Homo sapiens: one gene and its partners. The protein of the gene in region 4 interacts with the protein of the main gene of each other region in a pairwise test. Each region holds a gene or a part of one and is shown on either strand. Other genes may lie near its edges. The genes, in order: H4C12, HEXB, H4C3 and TLE1.

Evidence for each region.
Region 1: the proteins of TLE1 (region 4) and H4C12 interact in binary tests that used the Homo sapiens proteins (3 or more experiments, as listed by UniProt).
Region 2: the proteins of TLE1 (region 4) and HEXB interact in binary tests that used the Homo sapiens proteins (3 or more experiments, as listed by UniProt).
Region 3: the proteins of TLE1 (region 4) and H4C3 interact in binary tests that used the Homo sapiens proteins (3 or more experiments, as listed by UniProt).

The regions. Positions count from the first base shown.
Region 1 is NC_000006.12:27,830,673-27,836,169, forward strand, and holds H4C12 (histone H4), read right to left. Parts: upstream 889-5,497; 5' UTR 856-888; coding exon 544-855; 3' UTR 502-543; downstream 1-501. UniProt on the Homo sapiens protein: Core component of nucleosome. Nucleosomes wrap and compact DNA into chromatin, limiting DNA accessibility to the cellular machineries which require DNA as a template.
Region 2 is NC_000005.10:74,716,197-74,721,793, forward strand, and holds the end of HEXB (beta-hexosaminidase subunit beta isoform 1 preproprotein), read left to right. Parts: intron 1-390; coding exon 391-477; intron 478-2,094; coding exon 2,095-2,167; intron 2,168-2,600; coding exon 2,601-2,775; intron 2,776-4,231; coding exon 4,232-4,322; intron 4,323-4,446; coding exon 4,447-4,551; intron 4,552-4,921; coding exon 4,922-4,979; 3' UTR 4,980-5,092; downstream 5,093-5,597. Other genes in the region: GFM2 (ribosome-releasing factor 2, mitochondrial), read right to left, coding at 5,459-5,587. UniProt on the Homo sapiens protein: Hydrolyzes the non-reducing end N-acetyl-D-hexosamine and/or sulfated N-acetyl-D-hexosamine of glycoconjugates, such as the oligosaccharide moieties from proteins and neutral glycolipids, or from certain mucopolysaccharides.
Region 3 is NC_000006.12:26,099,417-26,104,841, reverse strand, and holds H4C3 (histone H4), read right to left. Parts: upstream 910-5,425; 5' UTR 895-909; coding exon 583-894; 3' UTR 505-582; downstream 1-504. UniProt on the Homo sapiens protein: Core component of nucleosome. Nucleosomes wrap and compact DNA into chromatin, limiting DNA accessibility to the cellular machineries which require DNA as a template.
Region 4 is NC_000009.12:81,588,548-81,595,588, forward strand, and holds part of TLE1 (transducin-like enhancer protein 1), read right to left. Parts: intron 4,728-7,041; coding exon 4,478-4,727; intron 2,506-4,477; coding exon 2,258-2,505; intron 1,564-2,257; exon of another isoform or gene 961-1,563; intron 1-960. UniProt on the Homo sapiens protein: Transcriptional corepressor that binds to a number of transcription factors. Inhibits NF-kappa-B-regulated gene expression. Inhibits the transcriptional activation mediated by FOXA2, and by CTNNB1 and TCF family members in Wnt signaling.

The DNA of each region.
Region 1 (5,497 bases), on a different chromosome or scaffold from region 4:
ACAGCGCCAGAAACCTATAACTGCTTGACTTTCCTCCCCACTACACTGCGAAAATTGCCCCTTAAATGTAACTAACCCTAAAACCTCAACAGTATCGTGGCCAGGCGTGGTGGCTCACTACTGTAATACCAACATTAGGCATAGGCGAGGGGATTGAGGCCAGGATATCGAAACTAGCCTGGGAAACACACGGAGACCCGGTCTTTGGAAAAATAATTAGCCTTGCGTGGTGGTGGGCGCGAGGTTCCGGCTAATCGGGAGGCTACAGTGAGCCATGATGACACTGCACTACAGTCTGCGCGACGGCCCATGTCAGTAAGCTCTGGAGCACCTGAAACAAGTTGTGTTGGGTATTTTATTTACTGGAGAGCGATTAGTGACTGATGCCTACTTACAGCGACTAGAGACGCATGCTCCGATAGCAGCACAAACTCAGCAGGCGCGAACAAATGGTAAAGAGAAACTGGGCAAACAAGCATCACGGCTCCTCAGCTGAGAAAGTGGGGGCCCTAAAAAGGGCCTTTTGTTGATAGAAAGGGACGCTCAACCACCGAAACCGTAGAGGGTGCGGCCCTGGCGCTTGAGCGCGTAGACCACATCCATGGCGGTGACCGTCTTGCGCTTGGCGTGCTCTGTATAGGTCACGGCGTCCCGGATCACGTTCTCCAGGAACACCTTCAGCACCCCGCGAGTCTCCTCGTAGATGAGGCCGGAGATGCGCTTCACGCCGCCGCGGCGAGCAAGGCGCCGGATGGCCGGCTTGGTGATGCCCTGGATATTGTCGCGCAGTACTTTACGGTGGCGCTTAGCGCCGCCTTTGCCAAGACCCTTCCCGCCTTTGCCGCGGCCAGACATGACGAGCAAGAGGAGTCTCACCCAACGCTTTGTGAGGACTCTGGCCTGAGGCAGCGCCTTTATACGACAGTTGGCGGACCGAACTGAGAACCTGAAAGAAGTCGGCGGGAAGTCCCGCCCCGGTGGGGGAGGGGAAATCTAAAGGGCCAAACCGAAATAGGGGGAAAAAAAAAGCGAGCTTCTTGTTTCCGTGTTCTGAATTTTGTAACGTGCATAGTATTTTGTTACCACGTTATGAGGCTTTAAAAAATTGCTTTTGAACGCAGAAGATATACATCAATACTGTGGGAAATACAAGAAAGGACAAGAAATTAAGAAACTACAATGTTATCCCATCACACAGGCTAGTTAATCATGTATTTTGCAGAGCAGTTGCACATATTTTTCCAAGAAAATGTATACAGTGTTGTATATGGAGTTTTGTAACCTCCTTATATTGATTATAATTTAACCAATTTCTATTAAAGAGATAAAAGTGATGTTTTGGTGTCTATGTTTCTTAGGAATTATCAATAGTTATAATCAGTTCCCCAGCAATTTTTTAATCGGCTGTATTTTAAAAATAATGTTTTCCACATTCAACATAAATGTACTTTTTCTCTATACTTGGGACCAATATTGAAATTTATGATTTTATTACACCAAAATTTAAATTTTATTACATTAATATTTAAAATTGTATTAGAGGTCTCATGATTTGGTACTACGGGTCTCCGCATTATTTCCTTTCCAAATTTCCTAATCTGTTTCACCAAGGTTTCTGGACAACTTTAGAGACCTTTTGTGAAGTTTGAATAAAATCTCTTCGAGATTTTGATAATTGCATTAGCTTTAGGACTTAATTGGAATAGAATTAAAATCCTTAAAACAAGCTCTTATAACTAGAAAATTGGTGTTTGTAGGTTTTGTGTGTGGGGTTTTTTTTTTTTTTTGGAAGGAGTCTCGCTCTGTCGTCAGGCCGGAGGGCAGTGGTGCAATCTCGGCTCACTGCAACCTCCACCTCCCGGGTTCAAGCGATTCTCATGCCTCAACCTCCGGATTAGCGCGGACTACAGGCATGCGCCACCACGCCCAGCTAATTTTTTGTATTTTTAGTAAAGAACAAGTTTCACCATGTTGGACAGGATGCTCTTGATCTCTTGACATCGTGATCCGCCCGCCTCAGCCTCCCAAAGTGCTGGGATTACAGGCGTGAGCCGCTTCGCTTGGACGCTTGTAGGTTTTTAAAAAGACACTTTTATATGACCCAACTAAAGATTTGTTATCAACCATTATGGAGCAACTTTGATTCCGTATATTTGATTTTCTTTCTTATTAATAAATACAGGGTTATACTCTGAATTTTTTTTTTTTTTTTTTTTTTTGTGGAGACGGAGTCTCGCCCTTTCGCTCAGGCTGGAGTGCAATGGCCCAATCTTGGCTCACTGCAACCTCCACCTCCCGGGTTCAAGCGATTCTCCCACCTCAGCCTCCCCTGAGTAGCTGGGATTACAGGCACTCACCACCACGCCCGGCTAATTTTTTTGTATCTTTAGTAGAGACGGGGTTTCACCATGTTGGCCAGGCTAGTCTCCAACTCCCGACCTCGTGATCCATATGCCTCGGCCTCCCAATGTGCTGGGATTACAGGCTTGAGCCACTGCGCTCGGCCACTCTGAAATTATTTTAACATCAATGAAAATTATAAAACTCCTATAACTATTCTAATATAATCTCTTAGTATTCAATTCTTTGTTTAGAAAGTAGTTAAGAGTTGAAACTCTGGAAATAGAAAACTTTGGTTTTAGATTAAATGTTTACCTTTCAGACTCGAGCTGACTTGTTACCGATCAGACACGAGGTGACTTGTTTATTCTTTTTAAATCTTTGCTCATCTACAAAGTTAGAATAGGATAGTGACGGTACTGTTGGGGTGCAGAATGATTCCCCAAAATGTGGTTCTTGGGCATGCTGAGCGCTTTTGAACATTGAAAGGCCTCAGAAATAAGCTTCAGAATCAAAGCCCCTCTAACTTCGTCTTCTTTCCCATACATGCGAAGGGACTCTGACATTTCCTAATCGGACCAAGAAAATTTCTTACCAGAAGTAACAATTGCCTTCTATCCCCTCCCTGTTATTTCATTATTGCAGAAAAGAATACTGAATATGGATTTTTCAAGATAATGTCTGCCTCTCGGTCTCATTTAAATTACCAAGACATACTAGGTGCTGTGGCTCCTCCCACTAATCCCAGCACTGTGGGAGGTCGAGGCAGGTGGATCCCTTGAGCTCAGGAGTTCGAGACCAGCCTGGCCAACATGGCGAATCCCTGTCTCTACAAAATATACAAAAAATTAGCCAGGTGGTGTCACATGCCTGTAATCCCAGCTACTTGGGAGGCTGAGGCAGGAGAATCACTTGAACCTGGGAGGCGGAGGTTGCAGTGAGCCGAGATTGCACCATTGCACTCCAACCTGGGCAACAAGAGTGAAACTCTGTCTGAAAAAAAAAAAAATTAGCCAGTTGTAGTGGTGCATGCCTGTGGTCGCAGCTACTAGGGAGCCTGAGGTAGGAGGATCACTTGAATCCCAGAGGTGGAGGTTGCAGTGAGTGGAGACTGTGCCACTGCACTCCAGCCTGGGTGACAGCCTGGGAGACGGATTAAGACCCCATCTCAAAATAAATAAATAAATTATGAAGACAATCATTTACAAGCTAATTTCTTTCTGTGGCCCATTTATTTTCCATAACAAGCCTTTATTGCCCCTCAAAGGAATTGTCTACCTTTCCCATCTCCTCCTTCCCCTATGAAAAAAGTTACATAAGCTTCTGTACTCCTTTAGGGACTGGGGTAATCACTTTGTAATTCTCCCTCGTGCACATTATTAAATTTCTGTGCCATTTCTCCCATTATTCTGTCTTTTGTCAGTTGATTTTCTATGAAACTTCCCTTAGCCCCTACAGTATTTACCTCTTTGAGGTACTGTAAGAATTAATGGAGGCCAGTCTCAGTAGCCTGCCTGTAGTCCCAGCTACTCTGGAGGCTGAGGTGGGGGGATTGCATGTGTTCAGGAGTGGGAGGATTGTGCAAGCTCAGGAGTCAGAGATCAGCCTGGGCAACATCACAAGACCTTCATCTAAAAAATAAAAAAAATTAAAAAAATAAAACAATGGAGATAATGTATGTAAAATATTAAGCAGAAAGCCAACCTCTATTTAATATACGTAATTTTTTTCTTTACAACTAATTTACAAATATTTTGTTTATATTATACTTTAAATATGTTAATACATCAATTTATCTAATTATGTATAACACATTAAGTAGTTAATTTAAATAACAAATATTTATTTTTAGTACATATTGTCAATGTCGGGGCTCAGAAACCAATACCCCAAACTATGGCATGGTGACAAGCTGAACTGCAGAAGCCTCAAAGTCTCTTTGACCTTCTCCCACTCCCCAACCTTTGTCTTCCTGTTATCTGGACTCACCAAAAATGAGTCCCTGTAAGACGAATGTAATCACACCCGAACAGCTCATTTCACAAGATAAGGTACAAGTTTAATTTCTTTTCCCTGATCCATTCATTCTTCCTAGTAATCCCCTCAAATGAATTCCTCTTCTCCCTCCCTCAAACTGTTTTTCAAGGATGGTATATAAACTTCTGAACCACGTTCTGGGGTGGGCAATCACTGATTCTCCCCATGCACATTGTAAATTTGTCTGCCTTTTTTTCTATTAATCTACCTCATGTCTGATTTTTCAACAAACCTTCAGAGGGCATCAAATCAGTAAGGACATTCATTTAATTCAATATTTCACAGATGATATAATACCATGAAGTGATAAGGCACTATAAATGTTCCTAATTGCTCCTTGCCCCTTGGATCTCTCTGATCTTTAGGTTGCCTCCTCTAGTTTACTTACTGTGAAGCTACTCATTTAACAGCTCCTCCATTTTCCTTTACATGTGTATGTGGAATTATAAACAATGATATATCACACTTGTATATTTTATTTTGCTTAATACATAAGTTTGCATGTCAATGTTTTGATTATGAGTACATTGATTTGAGTTTGCATAAATAACACCCAAAATTATAATAATTATAAAGCAAAAGTTACTTTACAAGCTGTTTAGCTTAAAGAATTTTACTTCTGGAACTCACGAACTCTGAAAAATATTACTTAGCTAGCTTTCATGATTAAATGGTGGTTCTTGGGAGAAACAGAATCAATGGAATAATTTTATTATCAACTTCAATGATCATAACAGCATATTTTATTTAAAAACTTATTTTAATTTCAAAAATCTTACAGGCCTTCTATGGAGCTGTATCATTTACTCTATATTGAGAAACAATTATTGAAAATTTATACACATAAATAACACAGATGACATTTTAAAAGGGAACAAATGAATTAATTCATTGAAATCAGGATGGAGTCCTCAACATCAAATAATAAATTTTTTTAAACAATGTGATATTTATGATTTTTGTGATTGCTGTTTTATTCCAAGAAATACTAGTTGTATGTGATTGCAATCAAGACTTAAATCTAGGAAATAAAAATGTGTGAAGAGACTCAAAAATTAATGTATTTCAATGGACTGGAGATCCTGTAGAAATTCATTTTCATTAACATGTCTGTATGAGG
Region 2 (5,597 bases), on a different chromosome or scaffold from region 4:
GTAAAGCTTGAGGAAAAACAAGATGCAGAAGAAAATGGAGATTCAAAAAAAGACTACTGTGAAATGAGAACACCTTTAGTGAAAGAGGGCAATCAATGATTAAATAGGAAAGATTTTTCAAATAAAAATTCTCTCTGCAAATAGCTTTAGATGGAGGAGAAAGGTGGTAAGGTAAAGAAAGCCATTTTTAAAGGAAATCAGCTTCTTGAAAAAATTGTTTGCAATGGATAATTAAGATAACTTGTAATTAAGTTTTTAGGCTTCTTTTTACTACCTACAAACTTTAATAGTTTTAAGTCTGCACAACTGATGTTAGGCATGTATACTGCTCTAAATAATAAACTGAGCATATCAAACTTCTAATGAAATTTTAATCACTTTTTGCTTCAGGGAATCAAATCCAAAAATTCAAGATTTCATGAGGCAAAAAGGCTTTGGCACAGATTTTAAGAAACTAGAATCTTTCTACATTCAAAAGTAAGTTGTTTGAAAGCCTATTTCTGTATTAATGCTTTTTGTAAAAGTTTATTTAGTAATGTGCTTTATTTTTTACATTTTCTCTACATCCTTTGCCTAAGTGTAGATGTGAAAAATCACTAAAGGAGGCAATACCCACTGCTTGCTTTAAATCAGTAACATGGTGACTCCAAGTATTTTCCAATAGCTGTTGAAATATAGGAAGGCAGTCATCTGTTCTAAAAACTCAGATTGGGCTGGGCATGGTGGCTCACACCTGTAATCCCGGCACTTTGGGAGGCCGAGGCAGGTGGATCACCGGAGGCCAGGAGTTCGAGACCAGCCTGGCCAACATGGTGAAATCCCATCTCTACTAAAAATGAAAAAATTAGCCAGGCATGGTGGCAGGTGCCTGTAGTCCCAGCTACTCGGGCGGCTGAGGGAGAATCTCCTGGGAGATGGAGGTTACAGTGAGCTAAGATCGCACCACTGCACTCCAGCCTGGGCAACAGAGTGAGACTGTCTCAATCAATCAATCAATCAATCCATCAATAAATATAAAACTCAGCTTGAAGCCCTGGCTACCCTGTGAAGTCTTCACTACCATCCAGCCCCTGGAATTCATTCCATTTTGTCAATTCCAGGAACATATATTTTACTATATACCTGTGCTACCCAATACAGTAGCCATAGCCACAGGTGTCTGTCCATATGTAAATTAATTAAAATTAATGAAAGTTAAAAATTCAGCTACTCAGTTGCATTAGCCACATGTCAAGTGTTCAGTAGCCAGCTGAGGCTAGTGACTGCCATACTGAAAAATGCATATATATATATATATATACACATTTCCATCCCAGGAAGTTCTACTAGACCGTGCTGCTCTAGAGGGATTGGCAAACTTTTTCTGTAAAGGGTCAGAGAGTAAAGATTTTAGGCTTCATGGGCCACATACAATTGCCCATGGACCACATACAATTTTTTTTTAACTTAAAAAAAACCTCAAATTTTAAAACTTAAAAAAAAATGCTTTACAAATATAAAAACCATTCTTAGCCCATGAGACATACAAAAACAGCCTGCAAGCTGTAGTTGCCAACCCTTATGCTGTACCATTTATTTGGCAAGCCCAGATTCCAGCCTTTGCCTGTTCAGCTTTTTGTGTGATGCATTTAAGTGTTATTTATCTGCAGAGCACCTGGCATTATGTAAATATCTGTAAATATTTGTGGATTGTCAGTAACTGTTACATGTAATTTATGTGATATGACAGGCTAGATCGTGGTCCCTACCATTTTAAGACAGCCATAAAATTGTAAGAGATTGCTGTTTGTACAATTTCCTGAGTTGCCTACCAACTCAATTTGAGGCCACTTCTTCCTATCTTAGGGGCATGTTTAACTCATTCATTCAGCAAATGATTATTAAACCCCCATACTATGTTAGGTTCTGTATCAAGTGCTAAAAAGGAGGAACTACTTGTGACACTTCCCAACTTGAGCTGCTTCTGCTATAAAGCTGAACTATACTAAAAGGCACCTCTCAAAATGCAAGAAATCCTTGGTAGAAAATGTACATGTTTTAAATATATTGTTAAGCTTATGATCTAAAATAACTATAATTTTTTTGTAATACTAGGGTTTTGGATATTATTGCAACCATAAACAAGGGATCCATTGTCTGGCAGGAGGTTTTTGATGATAAAGCAAAGGTGAGCATTGTGAAGACTGCATCTGATCAATATAAGAGACTTAATTATTTTTCTTGGGGCAACTGGGAATTTGCAAGTCTAACTACTAGTATTACCTTTCTAGTGTAGTTAGTGACCACTTTGGACCTCATAGTTCCAAGCTAGGTTTGGTAGAAATAAGACTAAAATGCAAGTCTCAGCTTTAGTTAACTGAACCTATGTGGTATCCATATATAAGCAAAAGTTAAATATTCAAACCTAAGGTTGATGAAACTTTTAAGTCCCTAAAATGAGTATCACATGGCACTAACTCTGAAGAAAAGAGGAAAAAGAAAATGCAGATTTTTTTTAAGGATCTTAGAAAATTATGTTCCTAGTAATAATGCCTTAAACTTTCAATTTCATCTACTGTTCTAGGCCTAATAATATGTATTGCAATTTGTAACGTTAATAGCTTGCGCCGGGCACAATAGTTGAAGTATGGAAAGACAGCGCATATCCTGAGGAACTCAGTAGAGTCACAGCATCTGGCTTCCCTGTAATCCTTTCTGCTCCTTGGTACTTAGATTTGATTAGCTATGGACAAGATTGGAGGAAATACTATAAAGTGGAACCTCTTGATTTTGGCGGTAAGTGAAGCAGTTGGTCCAAGTGTTGTGGGTTACTGTGAAGCTGATGGTAAGTGAAGCAACCATTGTTACCTTTGTTTTATGAGTTTTCTTCCCTAACCTCCCACCCCAGAAGTCTTTACCTAGATATTACCTACCAACTATCTTTTATGTTTGATCCTTGATTTTATGTGTTTTTTTAAGTTCAGTATCATTTTAAACTCTCAAGAAACCATACAGTTGCCTAAATTCAAGAACTTCAAAAGTATTATAGATCCCCTTAGATTTTATCTCCATTTTCAGTGATGGCTCCTCACTCTCTACATTCTAAAGGTATTTGATTGCATTAACCTTACATGCCCTCTTCTGAACTGCTTCTCCAATGTAAGACACCTAAGCAAAGCTATAGTTTTAGTTCAGTGGATTTCAGGCTGTGTTGTCTTAGGATTCTGAGGAGTAGAATCCTTGGTGGATGGGACAGGAGGGAACATCTGAAGGGTGGAGCTTCAGGCTCTCAGATCCCCTTCATAAAAAACATTCTAGTTTGTCCAATTTTGTACATTAGCCTTTAGTGAAAAATCACTGAAAAAGGATTTTGCTGTTTAAAAAAGTTTCAAAACCATAGGTCTATTAAGAATTGATAATTTTATATACAATGCATTTTATGAGGACCAAAAAGCGATAATTACTGATTTTTAAAAAGCATTAAGTGGCTGGGCACGGTGGCTGACGCCTGTAATCCCAGCACTTTGGGAGGCCGAGGCAGGTGGATCATGAGGTCAGGAGTTCAAGACCAGCCTGCCTAAGATGGTGAAATTCTGTCTCTACTAAAAATACAAAAATTAGCCGGACGTGGTGATGGGTACCTGTAATCCCAGCTATTCGGGAGGCTGAGGCAGAGAATTGCTTGAACCCAGGAGGTGGAGGTTGCAGTGAGCCAAGATCGCGCCACTGCACTCCAGCCTGGGTGACCAAGCAAGACTCCATCTCAAAAAAAAAAAAAAACACACACATTAAGTATTCAATTTCTGTTTTAAATGCCAAGAGGTAGAAATTAAAGGTAGGCATGGTGGTCACAGTCCACTAAAAAACTAGTATTCCAACTTCTATTCCCTGGCACACTACTAAATAGGCAACCAGGGATTTAAAAAATGGTTTCTGGTGTCCAGGTAAGTTTGCATAAAACCAAAATAAAACTGTTTAATACTGGCCCACTACATTAATCTATGGTGCTAACACGTGCTGTGAACCGTGGGTCAGGGCTGGGGATAAAGTTTGCAACCATTTTTTTGGGGGGTGGGGGAAGAGGAGGGGCCATCTTTTTTGTGCCACAACCATTAGCATCTCCCAAGGTCCTGCTAACCACGGGCAAGAAATGTTGCCCTAGGATAAAGATGGAGGAAACAAATCTTGATGAAATATTGCCTCTGTGTATAAGCTTTGAACTTCTGAACTTAATTCAATGATTTTAATTTAGGTACTCAGAAACAGAAACAACTTTTCATTGGTGGAGAAGCTTGTCTATGGGGAGAATATGTGGATGCAACTAACCTCACTCCAAGATTATGGTATGGGATTTACCTGATAACATTTAAGAATTAAGGTGCCTTAGCTTTCCTTCTCTGTCTAAACACAAAAGTGCTAAACATAAATTTAAACTGCTTGCGGGGGGATGTGTGATTTAAATTTTAGGCCTCGGGCAAGTGCTGTTGGTGAGAGACTCTGGAGTTCCAAAGATGTCAGAGATATGGATGACGCCTATGACAGACTGACAAGGCACCGCTGCAGGATGGTCGAGTAAGAAATCTATTAAGTCCAGTGTGATTTTTAACCTTCTTATTCAGTGTTAGTTTCTTTTGCTATAAATAGAAATGTATGTTACCTAACAAATAGTAATTAGAAGAAACCAGGAATTATTTTTTTGTAAGTAATAATACCTGTAAAGATATATTCAGACTTGTGACTGTTTTATAGATACAAAAAATGTTGGTGTAACTTAGAACTCCATCTTGAGTTGCTTTAATTTTCTTCCCTTATTTTCAGTAATGCTGTGATTTAGTGATTCTAATTTAAGTTTCTAAGATGACATGAATATCAATCTAAAATATCTTTATGAATGATATCAATCTAAATCAATCTAAAATATCTTTATTCATGTTATCTACAGACGTGGAATAGCTGCACAACCTCTTTATGCTGGATATTGTAACCATGAGAACATGTAAAAAATGGAGGGGAAAAAGGCCACAGCAATCTGTACTACAATCAACTTTATTTTGAAATCATGTAAAATAAGATATTAGACTGTTTTTTGAATAAAATATTTTTATTGATTGAACCTTTGACCCTCTATCTTATTACATTTAGAGGCCTGGCATCTTTCTTGTGAGACAAGCTTAAGGACACAAAAGAAACACAACTTTGTGATACCACTCTTCTGAAGGCTACTTATAGTAATAACTTCATAGATGAACAGCATGATTCAGGTACAGTGGCTTTAAACATCAAAGCACATTTCTCATTATATAAATTAAAACGGGTGGCTCCAGTGCCACTATCAAAGCTTAAGTTATATCTTTTATCTAGTTCTCTGAATGTACTGAAACAGTACTTTATTCGTCCAATAAATAAAGCAATAAAAATTGTTCTTACTGAAAATGAAGTAGCTAGGTGCTCCTGAATTTCTCTCCAAAAACTAAAACATTTAGGTCAAACCACTTCTCCGGTTGAGCAGTGTATTTTGATCTTGAGGATTCATGGCTTGATAAGTAGATAGTTCTAAGGCAAAAGTAGCTGAGCCTGATGTTAGCGTTCGAAGCACAGTTGAATAACCCTAATCAAAA
Region 3 (5,425 bases), on a different chromosome or scaffold from region 4:
AAGTCCAAAGTACCATTCTTAGAATGCTCTAAAATACATAATTTTTTTTTTTTTTTTTTTTTTTTTTTTTGAGGAGTCTCTCTCTGTCTCCCAGGCTGGAGGGGAGTGGCGCGATCTCGGCTCACTGCAATCTCTGCTTCCGGGCTAGCTGGGCCTACAGGTGCAGACCACCACGCCCGGCTAAGTTTTGTATTTTTTTTGGTAGAGGGGGTTTCACCATTTTGGCCAGGCTGGTCTCGGATTCTTGATCTCAAGTGATACACTAGCTTTGGCCTCCCAAAGTGCTGGGATTACAGTCGTGAGCCACTGCGCCCAGCAAAATGCTTTTTGTGGAGCCAATCACTTTATTAGCGCTTACCTCTCTATGCCTACTTTATGCTTTGAAATTTTGTCACAGTGTGGCCGGTCATGGCAAACACAATTCATTCTTATGCAGGATGTCACGGTTATTTCTGTCATCCAAACTCATTCTCGCAACGCATTTCAGCTCTTTAAACGACTTTGTGAGCGGCCCTGAAAAGGGCCTTTGGGTTTTTTTGTTTTTGTTTTTTGAAGTTCTCAGGAGACCGCGTATTCTTAGATTCAGCCGCCGAAGCCATACAGAGTGCGCCCCTGACGTTTTAGGGCATATACTACATCCATGGCTGTGACAGTTTTGCGCTTGGCGTGCTCCGTATAGGTGACGGCGTCTCGAATAACGTTCTCTAAGAAAACCTTAAGCACACCTCGAGTCTCCTCATAGATAAGACCGGAAATGCGCTTGACGCCACCGCGCCGAGCCAAACGGCGAATAGCCGGTTTTGTAATGCCCTGGATGTTATCCCGGAGCACCTTACGATGGCGCTTAGCACCACCCTTCCCCAAGCCTTTTCCGCCTTTGCCGCGACCAGACATGATTCCTATCGCAGTGGAAGGTATGAACTGAAACAGTTCCTTAAATACAAACTTGGCGGACCTGATTGAAAACAACATGAGTTGGCGCGGTTTTTTTTTTTTTTCAAATTTGGTCACCAAGTGGGTGGAGCAAGAAAAACTGTTTCATTATGGTTCATTGTTTTGATTGGCCAGTGACAGCTTGCTCTTTGTGGGAGTGGAAGGGTGTTTGCAAGTTGAATGCGCTGTATTCCTGTCAGCTTAATGACGCTAAGCATAGCCCCATTCCACATTTCTTTTTATTTCCACTTGCTAACTAATAAATTACGGAATAGTTTATTGGGGAACATACAAATAATGTTTAAAGGAGGTCAGATTTATAGGTCAAGGGATTTACCCTCCCAATCATTTTAATATTTTTATTTAAACCAGGCATTTTGATGGCCTTCTCTGTGCTGGACAAGGTATAAGTTTGGCTATGAAGTTTCACTCCTAAAGACCCTATGTTTTGGGAAGGCAAAAAGGTAGCCAAATAATTGCAAATTAAAACCTCATAAGTGCAAACTTCTTCCTCGTCACTTTCCCTATCTCGATTCAAATATTTGTTGAATGACTCATTTTTCTGCAAAAGTCTGAGAGAGACAGGGAATATAAACTTAAGTCTGGATAATATGTTTTCCCGGGACGCTCTTCCTGGTCTGCTGTGCCTGTTTGCTGTGCCTGAAATTCCAAACACTCTTCCCTTCCCTCCGTTTTTAATCCCCTTTCAACTTGCTACAGCTTTAGAGAAAAGAACATTCGTTTTGTACAGTTGGGGATTAATTGAAGTGTAGGGCTAATACTTGATTAAGGTCATTACAAAATCTACAGGGTCTTCCTCTGGGAGGTTTTTGTGATAAGATTATTGGTGTTAAAATAAGGCTAATCCCCTTGAAAAATAAATAGAATAGCAGAATTGGGTCTGAATGTGGTTTGAAGAAAGGGACTTCTCAATTCAAAATTTTATTCTTAGCTTCCTGCGGGAGCTTTCCAGAATGCCCATAAGATCCACTTTTGTTTAAAAAACAAAAACAACCCCACCCACCACTCTCTGGTTAATAAATGAATTTCTATTGGGAATATTTAGAATGGGGCTGTGGCCTGTGAGAGACATTATATAGTAACCTCAGACTTGCTCACATGAAGAGAAGAAATCCAGGAATGGAGAAAAAAGACCCAGGAAAGGCCAGAATGCTCTACATGTCATATTGTTTGTATCACTTCTGAAATAATTGATTACATTCTTCTGCCCCAAATTGAGTTCTTAGGTTCTTCCACTCACTGTCCACATGCCACAACACAGACCTTATAACTAGAGACTTAGCTAGGAAGAAATGTCAAACATTACAGAGAAAAAATGCAGAGTCTGAGATCATAAGTAAAACTCTGAAATCTCAACATGCCTTTTAATTCATGAAAATAAAAAATATAGCAGCATATGCAATATGACAATTCTCTGAAAACATACATCATGTGAACTACCCTGGAACACATCTCGCCAAGTGCCATCTTCATTTTAACCAGAGGTCTAGGATGCCTTTCCTTTATTTTGCCTATTATATCATTTATAAAACCCCATTTTTATTTTGATATTTTATTTACTTTCTATTTCCTGCTCCTAATATCTCCTTTCTAAACTTTTCTCAATGACAGTGACTCAAAAACAATGAATGTCAGAACAAATATTTAAAGGATCTGTACATGTAGATATATATATTTAAAATGGATTCTTCCACTCTGCGAAGAATTCAGGCATACTCAATCTTATGGTTAGGGAGAGATTAGGCTCACTCGCCTAATCTGTATGGCTTCTCGTTCGCTTTCCATTTCACCTTCCTCTCACCCATCAGATCAAACTCATTCATTGAACAAGAGACCTAAGCCCTTCAGATTAAAACTCTGCAAACAAGTTGTGGTTGAGAGGATACATGAAGCATTCAAACAAATAAATCTATGATATTAATCAGAGGTTAATCTATGATATTAATCAGAGGTTAATGCAGTGGCTCACGGCTGTAATCCCAGCACTTCAGGAGGCTGAGTTGGGAGAATCGCTTGAGCTCAGGAGTTCAAGACCATTTTGGGCAACATAGCAAGTCTTCATCTCTACTTAAAAAAAAATAACCAGAGGTGTTATGAAAATATAAATTGTCCAGAACTACCCTCCACAAACTAACTCTCTCAGAATATTCGATATGAGGAATGAAATATGGTGTGTGTGTGTGTGTGTGTGTGTGTATGTGTGTGTGTGTGTGTGTGTATGCACCTATATATGGCACCTATATATTCAACAAACAATTCTGATAATTGGCCAGGGTTGAGAATGACTAGCAGCCCAGCATACACTATCAGTTTTAAGTATATAATTGCGCTTTAGTAAAATGTAAAGAAATCCCAGAGTAGAAATACTTTTAAGCTATATTACAGGTGAGAAAATGCATAAGTATAGTCTCACCCAACTTAGACTATGGGGGCTTTATAATGTCACAACAGTTGTTTCCAGGCATTTGGGGACATCACCACTGGTCTTGGGCAAGAAACTCCTCTAGCCAATGGCTGATTTATCTCACTCCCATCTAAGGCTTCACTGCATTTCTCTTTTTCAGCAACCTAACTTATTTAAAAATATCCATTTTCTGATTCATTTTTTTCTGAATTAAACTGTCAGTACCATTGGCACACCTTTGGTTCCGTAGCATACCTGTGTCTCTGCTGTGTTTTTTTTTTACCTCCACTCCTTACTTTTCTAGAAAAAAATCTCTGCTTTTTCTTTTCAGTTTAAATTATTTCACAAAAAGTTTTCTTGACTTGCACTTCCTAGGCTTGCTGTCCTTGTGTGGGCACGCTCCCATAAACACTATTAATACACTTCGATTTGTTAAAAATAAAGATATCTGGACAGAAAATTTCTTTTCTTTTTTTAAGATTTTAAAATTTTTAATGTTTATTTTTTTCCTAGACTGGAGTACAGTGGCACCATGATGGCTCATGGTAGCCTACACTTCCCCGGGCTCAAGTGATCCTCCCACCTCAGCCTCCCAAGTAGCTGGGACTACAGGTGTGCACAACCACACCTGACTAATTTTGTTTATTTGTTTGTTTTGTTTTTTGAGATGGAGTTTCGCTCTTGTTGCCCAGGCTGGAGTGCAATGGCGGGATCTCGGCTCACCGCAACCTCTACCTCCCAGGTTCAAGCAATTCTCCTGCCTCAGCCTCCCGAGTAGCTGGGATTACAGGCATGCATCACCACGCCCAGCTAATTTTGTATTTTTAGTAGAGACGGGGTTTCTCCATGTTGAGGCTGGTCTGGAACTCCTGACCTCAGGTGATCTGCCCGCCTCGGCCTCCCAAAGTGCTGGGATTACAGGCGTGAGCCACCACGCTCGGCCACTAATTTTGTATATTTTGTAGAGATGGGCTTTCCCTGTGTTGTCCAGGCTGGTCTTGAATTCCTGGGCTTAAGTGATCTGCCCACCTTGTCCTCCCAAAATGCTAGGATTACTGGCGTGAGCCACCAGGTCTGGCTGGAAAGATAATTTCTAACATTATCCTCTCTTAAACATTTGTTTCAAAAATTTTACAAACATGAGAGTAATTAAATTTGATTTTCAAAATTCCCTTGAATACTTTCTTAATAGCACACAGAAAGCACAAAGTATTTTACATTTGTTTTAATGATGAAATTGTGAACCCAAACTTACACAAAGAAAAACCCGTAACATTATACCCATACTTAAAACAGATGCCCTCATATACATAGTAAAACTCTTGGGGGCAGTAGTGAAGTTGGTTATTTACTGTTTTATGAAAGTGCCATTCAGCCGGGTGCAGTGGCTCATGACTGTAATCCCAGCACTTTGGGAGGTCGAGGCAGGCTGATCACGAGGTCAGGAGTTCAAGACCAGCCTGACCAAAATGATGAAACCCTGTCTCTACTAAAAATACAAACATTAGCTGGGCGTGGTGGTGTGTGCCTGTAGTCCCAGCTACTCAGGAGGCTGGGGCAGGAGAATCGCTTGAACCTGGGAGGCGGAGATTGCAGTGAGCCGAGATCGCACCACCGCACTCCAGCCTGGGAGACAGGGCGAGCTCCGTCTCGAAAAAAAAAAACAAAAAAGTGCCGTCATAGTGACTCAGTTTTAAGGAATAAATCAAGGATATTTAACTCAATAGACTACAGTTAGCTAACGTGACTTGCACTGAAAGTTATACGAATATTGGTACTTATTCCCCTGCCCCTGAAGTATGAATTAAAGACTCCAAAATTCTTTTTAGAATCTTCAGAGTAAAAGCTAGAATTTGATTTTTTTAAATAATAAAAAAATACTTTGTATCTAAATCTGGTGTATAAAATAACTTGGTGGATGATGCTTCAAGGCTATCCATCCCCAAATTTCTCCCTGAATGATAAAGAGAATAAATGAATATGTCAATTCAAAAGTTAGAAATTTGGCCGGGCACGGTGGCTCACTCCTGATAATCCTTTCGGACGCTGAGGTGGGTGGATCGCATG
Region 4 (7,041 bases):
CAAGGTTGTTCTTTAAAGAACCTTGTGCTTCATTCAAAAATCGCCATCAGAAACGATCAGCCAACAGGGATCTGCTGAGCACAGATGCTGTGCAAGGCAACTAGCAGAGCTGCTGAGGGGAGGTCAGTGTAAGCCCCAGCAGGGACGGTGACTGGTGGACTCAGTTCTGCATGCTGAGAGGAAGGTGGTGGGGGAGGCAGCCAGAAAAGGCGAGCAAAGTCTAGACCCACCCTCAGAAGCAGGCGGGATCCAGTAAAGAACTGCGTGGGAATTTCAACACTGAGAAGAAAGTTACCATGCTGCTTCTTCCTCCAGGATCCCCACACCTTATCATTCCTGTAGAGCTCCAAACTTTTAACCTGAGCTTGGATTTTAAAGAGTGCAAGGGAAGGAAAAAGCACCACTACTGCCCTAAATTCTAAGCCAAGACGTGAACCATCACTTTTAAAATCTTCTCTCTGCAAGCCATCCCCAACTTCTGCACTTTAGGATCCAGGTTGAGTCCTCTCTCCTGCGGCCGTGCAGCTGGACCTCCAATGTTTCCGCTTGCTTCCCAGACATCCCCACAGAACACCCAGGCCTGGAGCAGTCCCTGCTTCACTTGGTGAAAGTGTTGCTTTCCTTCCCTTCAAACAGCTCTGGAAATCCAGTGACCCTCTGACTTCTTTTGACCTTTCTAACTCATGAAACGCTGTTCCTCCTTGACTGAAAACACCTTCCTCTGCTGACATACAGTACCTGGCAGCTGCTCCCCCATCCCTCTGCCCTCTCTCCGTCCATATACTATACTCCAGCATTACTCTCAGGCACATCCTATGACTGTTCAGAACGTGCTGGGTTACAGTGGATACAAAGACATTCAATAGGCTTTACATGGCCCTATTACATGCAGCAGCCACTAGCCACCTGTGAGTGGTCCAGAGAAAGATTTGTAAGACGCTACCCCATTCTATCCAACAGGTATTTACTCCCCAGGAGCCGGCACGGAGCAAGGGTTCAGAGTACAGACGAGAGCAGAATGCCTGGGCCTCAACTTGGCTCCACCACATCTGACTGTGTGACCTGAAGCCAGTAACTTACCCTCTCTGAGCCTCAGGCACTTCCTCTATAAAATGGGGCAAATAGCAGGACAGACGTTATGAGAACTAAGTGGAGGAATATTTGAAAAGTGCTTAGAATTGATATTTTGAAAGTGCTACTTATGGAGTTTTAAAAAAAGAAAAAAACAAGTAACTTTTGCTAGGATAAAAGGTGGAGAGGGCGTTCGGCCCTGGCTCCATCATTCCATTTTGCTCACCTACACTACCCAGCAAACAGAAGAGGAAAGTAACTGCCGCACTGTCACCCACACGCAGGGACCGGGCCCGGCTCAATGACACTTCATGGATTTCTACAGCGGAGGTTTGAAGAGAGTGAGCTGTCATGATGACTTCTGGAGCCCGTCCCTTCTCTGTGCAGCATGAGAGGGGACTTACCAAACAAGCCACAGACCCCAAACTGCACCATCCGCAGGGACGGCTTCCCAGCAAAGATGAAACAAGAGTAAAACATGTACTCATTTTACCTTTCATGTTTCATTCATGCTTACTTTAAAAAGACTTTTTGAGAACAGCTCTGGTGTGAGCACTGACTTCTGAAGGGAGCATTTGGCGGGGGAGCTGAGGAGAGACACATGGGTACCAGAACTGCAGCTGCTGCTAAGGTGACAGGGCTGATGCCAGAAGGCCAGGCAGAGCCCTGCGGGCTCCTGGGTGGAACCACCCCTGGGCAGGTCTATTTCATTATTGAGATACTTTAAAATCATTTTGTAGGCAAAATTCACAGAATCTCCTCTTCTCATGTCCCTTTGTTGATTTTCTGTTATCTTTTATCAGTTGGCTCTTGTCTGCACCAAGTTCTAGCCAAAGCCCAAAACATCTAGTATCAAGGGCCTTTTGTGCTGCCGTGTAATCCACATTAGGCCACCCCTTGGCAAAAGCCAGAAATATTTTTAGAACAAGTTTGGAGTCTGTATGTGGGCTGAAGAATTGGCACATTAAGGAGATAGAAAGTCTCGGGTGACACCAGGCATAGTAATAAGACTGTAAGCCCCCCAAAGGCAGCAACACAGTTGTCTTTGTTCCCTCATCACCTAGCCCCATGCCTGGCATTCAAGAGGCTCTTATTGTGTGGGCTGCAGGCAGCCAGAGAGAAGCAGAGGTGATAGGCCCAGCTGCTAAAGAAGCGAACCCCTCCTTAGACGACCATCTTTGCTCACCTCACTAGTGTCTGGTTGTGCAGATCCCACACAGCGATGTTGCCGTCGCTGCAGCATGAGAAGCAGACCTTGGAATCGGGGCTGATGGCCAGGGCGTAGCAGGCGGGGGCCGAGGACGTCAGCTCCGCCTTGATGCGCGGGGTTGGAGCCGCCAGGTCCCAAATGGACAAAGTACTGGCTTCCCCTCCCACTATGAGAGTGCAGCCATCGGGTAGCAATTTACAGGAACGGATATAATTGTCTCTGTTCTGTAGAATAAACATAATTCATTGCTATAATGAATTACCGAGCAATCATAGCACCATGTTCTCTAATGGCTGTCTTGGTTTTTTGAGTTAAGAGTGGTGTTTCATGGACACTCTAACAGAGCAAGAGTTCTCTAGTCAAGATTGGGGTCCAAGTACAACTGTCTCCTTCAAAATAGTAAACAAAACAAATTCACAGGAGCTTAGGTAACTGCTTCTGGTGTCCTGCATCACAGAGCTGAAACTATCTAGGTATGAGGTACAGGTGTACACATAGTTCCCTGAGAAGAAACCACTTTTCCAAGCTAGTTTATAAATCTACCTCATCACCCTGCATTATTTACCACTTGGAAACTGCAGGCCCATCCTCTATGTTTCGGTCTTCGTTATGCTGAGCACATTACCTCATTAGTCAGAAGGATTCTTGCTAAGAATTTACCAGAGCTGCTTTCTCAAGTTGTCATGTGGCTGCTGTTACACTTAAGCCCCTCAATGCAAAGGCCAAAGAACCTGATAAAAGCAGGCATCTTTCCATCAAAACCGACACATATGAAGGGGCTGTGGGTGGGGGGCCCTCATATGATCAACTCCTGAAAGATGCAGATATGGCTAAAGTTTGCTTACATGCTTTTAACGATGGATTATCTTTCAAAGATTAAAGAAACTTTAAGCACATGACTTCAACAAAGGATACTCCTACTGCTATAGAATATTGGGCCATATTTAAATAAGAATTTCATGAATGAAGACATTTTGAAGTTATTTGGTTTTTTTAAAAAATGCACTAATAACTACTCTAAAAAAAGTCTGTGTTTCCAAAACACCGCCACTCTGCTTTTTGGAAACACCTTCTCTGGAATCCTTACAATTTTCCAGGCAGGCAGTGGGTACGTGGCACCATCTGCAACAGCAGAGTGCAGGCAGACACCACACCAGGGCAGGGCAGGGCAGGGCAGCTCGGAGTCTGCTTAAGGCCAGTGGTATGTGCTCTGTAAATCCTGGGGTTATGGTTTAGAAATCGGAACATGGCCGGGCGCGGTGGCTCACGCCTATAATCCCAGCACTTTGGAAGGCCAAGGCGGGCGGATCACAAGGTCAGGAGATCGAGACCATTCTGGCTAACATGGTGAAACCCCGTCTCTACTAAAAATACAAAAAATTAGCCGGGCGTGGTGGTGGGCGCCCGTAGTCCCAGCTACTTGGGAGGCTGAGGCAGGAGAACGGCGTAAACCCCGGAGGCGGAGCCTGCAGTGAGCCGAGATCCGGCCACTGCACTCCAGCCTGGGCGACAGAGCAAGACTCCGTCTCAAAGAAAAAAGAAAAAAGAGATCCGAACATGTCCCAACATGTTTTATGTCCCTGAAAAATGCTAAATGGTATTCTCAGGCTCTGAGCGGACGTGGCTTAGGTACTCTGGGAAAGCATTCTCACTGCTCTCTTTCGTTGATGGCTGCCCCGGGTCTTTGCAGTGACAGCCTTTAACCCTTTCCTGAAGTTAAGGCCATAAAACCTAACCAGCTCTCTCAGGTCTCCCTTAAAAACACAGACCCTGTTCAGAATGGTTTTTATGCCATGTTATCAAATATTTACTATTCTATATTTATCTAAAGGCTGTAGGTCAATTAAAAAACGAGTGGATGGCAGGGATCAGAGTCCAGGCCCAGTTGTGCTTTTGTCCATTAAATGGGAAACTCTCTTTTGTAATACACATCCATACATGAGGAGAGCCTCTGTAAACCACTGTAAAATATTTTTTAAAAAGAAATCCATCAACTCTGGGATTTAGCCAGTACAACAGCAACAAATGAAACCTTCGCATTTAAATGGGGAGCCGAGGGGGTTAAATAACCAACACAGGAAACAGAAGGGGCTTCTATTTCCTCATAATGGGAATAAAACCCAGGCCCACACAGCTATTTCCTTATTGAATCTCCAGGGAGAAATTGCCCTTGTGCACCAGTTCCTGTTCACTCACCAGACAGTCGAGCTGGGAGACAGGGCTCTTATTGCCAGGGTGGCTGATGTCCCAGACCTTGACGCAGCCCTTCCCGCCTGTGTACACGTGTCTCGTGGGGTTGCTGATGGTCACAGCGCACACCACCTCCCCGTGGTTGAGGGTGTTGATCTGGCGAGCATGCCGGGGGATTCCGGGTCCGATGAGGGCGTCGGGGGGAAAAGGGACAGGCTGCATCTGACCGTCTGCAGTAACGTGGAAGGAGTATGCACTTTTGGAAAAACGATTGGAGAGAAGACAGAAAACACATTTACAGAGGAAGCAATCCCTATCTCGGCAATGTGCTACGACTATGAAAAAGATGAAAAAAAGGAAAGATTCTCTTGTATAGTTTCCTTTGAAATCAATACAAATTGAAGCATTTACTGCTGGTGCAAATTTAAAATAATTAATAGCAGAAATCTAGCGTGTACCAAATGACATATATATTGAACTGTATGTAAAATTTTTTAAGGGTTTTAAATTGTTCTTACCCATTCTGTAAAGCATTCCCTCAAATCTCATTATAAAACACTTAATGTACTTCCAAATGAACATAAAATACCTCCTTCCATGTATCTTGTGTAATTGTATGATTTCTTAGTATAATTTTAAATGATTGTTTTCCCTGCTAAAGATGAAGCCCTTAAGAACTAATAATAATTAAACAGAGTAGATATATTTCAACAGCAAAAACAACCTCCAAAAAAACAGCTTTCTAAAAATACCAGTTTATGGTATGGACTTCAACTTTCTCTTGCTTAAGGAAGAGAAAATAAGAGATTATCTTATATGGCTGTAAACAGAGATTTTAGGTTTCCTACTCAACAATCTTCCTTGCCTACCTTGGTCAGGAACGCCATTATATAAAACAGCAAAGTGTGCAGCTAAAAAACTACTCTTCCCCGGTCTCCTTTAGCCCAGCCTGCCTATGTTCTGACCAATGAGGTGTAAGAAGAAGCTGTTGGATGGCATTTTGAGGAAGCTCTGAACTTGAAAGAGGGGAGAGGGATGGGGGATATGGGAACTCTCTGTAACTTTCCACTCTATTTTGCCAAGAACCTATAACTGCTCTAAAAAAATAAATAGGGAGAGAGCATACTTGCCCTCTTCTCTTCTTCCTTCCCACTGCCTGAGCTAAGAGCAAGATGACTGGTGCTCCTACGGCCCCTCTGGGCCACAAGTTGATTTCAAAGACAGAAATCAATTGCTGGATAGCAAAGACTTGGAACCAACCCAAATGCCCATCAATGACAGAATGGATAAAGAAAATGTGGCACATATACACCATGGAATACTATGCAGCCATAAAAAAAAGGATGAGTTCATGTCCCTTGCAGGGACATGGATGAAACTGGAAACCATCATTCCCAGCAAACTAACACAGGAACAGAAAACCAAACCCTGCATGTTCTCACTCATAAATGGGAGTTGGACAATGAGAACAATGAGATCGCGCCACTGCACTCCAGCCTAGGCGACAAGAGCAAGACTACGTCTTAAAAAAAAAAAAAATTATGCACATTCTACTTTGAAGACCACTACTTCCACTTTCTTAACTTGAAATCACTAAGAGAGCTAGAAGTTCAAACCATAAACAATAAGTGAAGTATGCACTGCTTCCTCCTTCCCATTACCCTCGAGAAAGTCTGGGCCCTTTCTGGAGCTTGTCATTGGCAGCTTTAAATATAATGTAAACACCATGAGTACTAACACAGAGCTTAAATTTTCATTTTAATACAAACTCAAATTTTGTAAAGTAACTTAGCAAGCACAAAACTGAAAACCGATTATGCCAGGTCTCTAGCACCCTGCACTTAAAACCCACATACATTTGCTTGAAAATAAAATGCATGCTATTATCTTCCCTCCATAAAAGCAAAATATCAGACACATGAAGACTTTTAAACTTCCCCTCCACTCAATCACAGGACATAATCTCAATCTGTTATCTGCTGGCAAATTGGTTCCAGTAACTAATAGTAAATAGCTTTTTGGCCCAAATCCTTAATGTTACTCTTAATTTGAATGAATAAGCACGTATAATGGGAACCATGGAGACTGTCCTGGGGAATAAATACACATATAAAAACAATATAGCTCAAAGCCCTCACATCACCAAACCACTCAATCTCATTTTTTATCCAACAGGATTATTTGGTGTCCTTAGCAATATATCGAGTCCACATGATATTTCAACATGCACATTATAGTTAGTTGAACAGGAACCTATGCCACTTATTATGGGATACTTGGAGTCATAATCAAATAGCATTTTGTTGCCCTTGAAGACTGCCACAGAACTATGGGAGTTTAAGTCTATTCATGTCCTACAAGAATTCTAGGCTTTGAAGAATGCTCAACGAACAAAGTCCAGTAGCCAAGTTCTATGACTCAGAATCAGGCTCCATACTCTGGGTCCAAAAACAACAAAAAAATTGCCAGGTGATACTGAAGAAATGACAAGTAAATTTCCATAAAATTAAACAATTGAGGCTGGGCGCGGTGGCTCACGCCTGTAATCCCAGCACTCTGGGAGGCCAAGG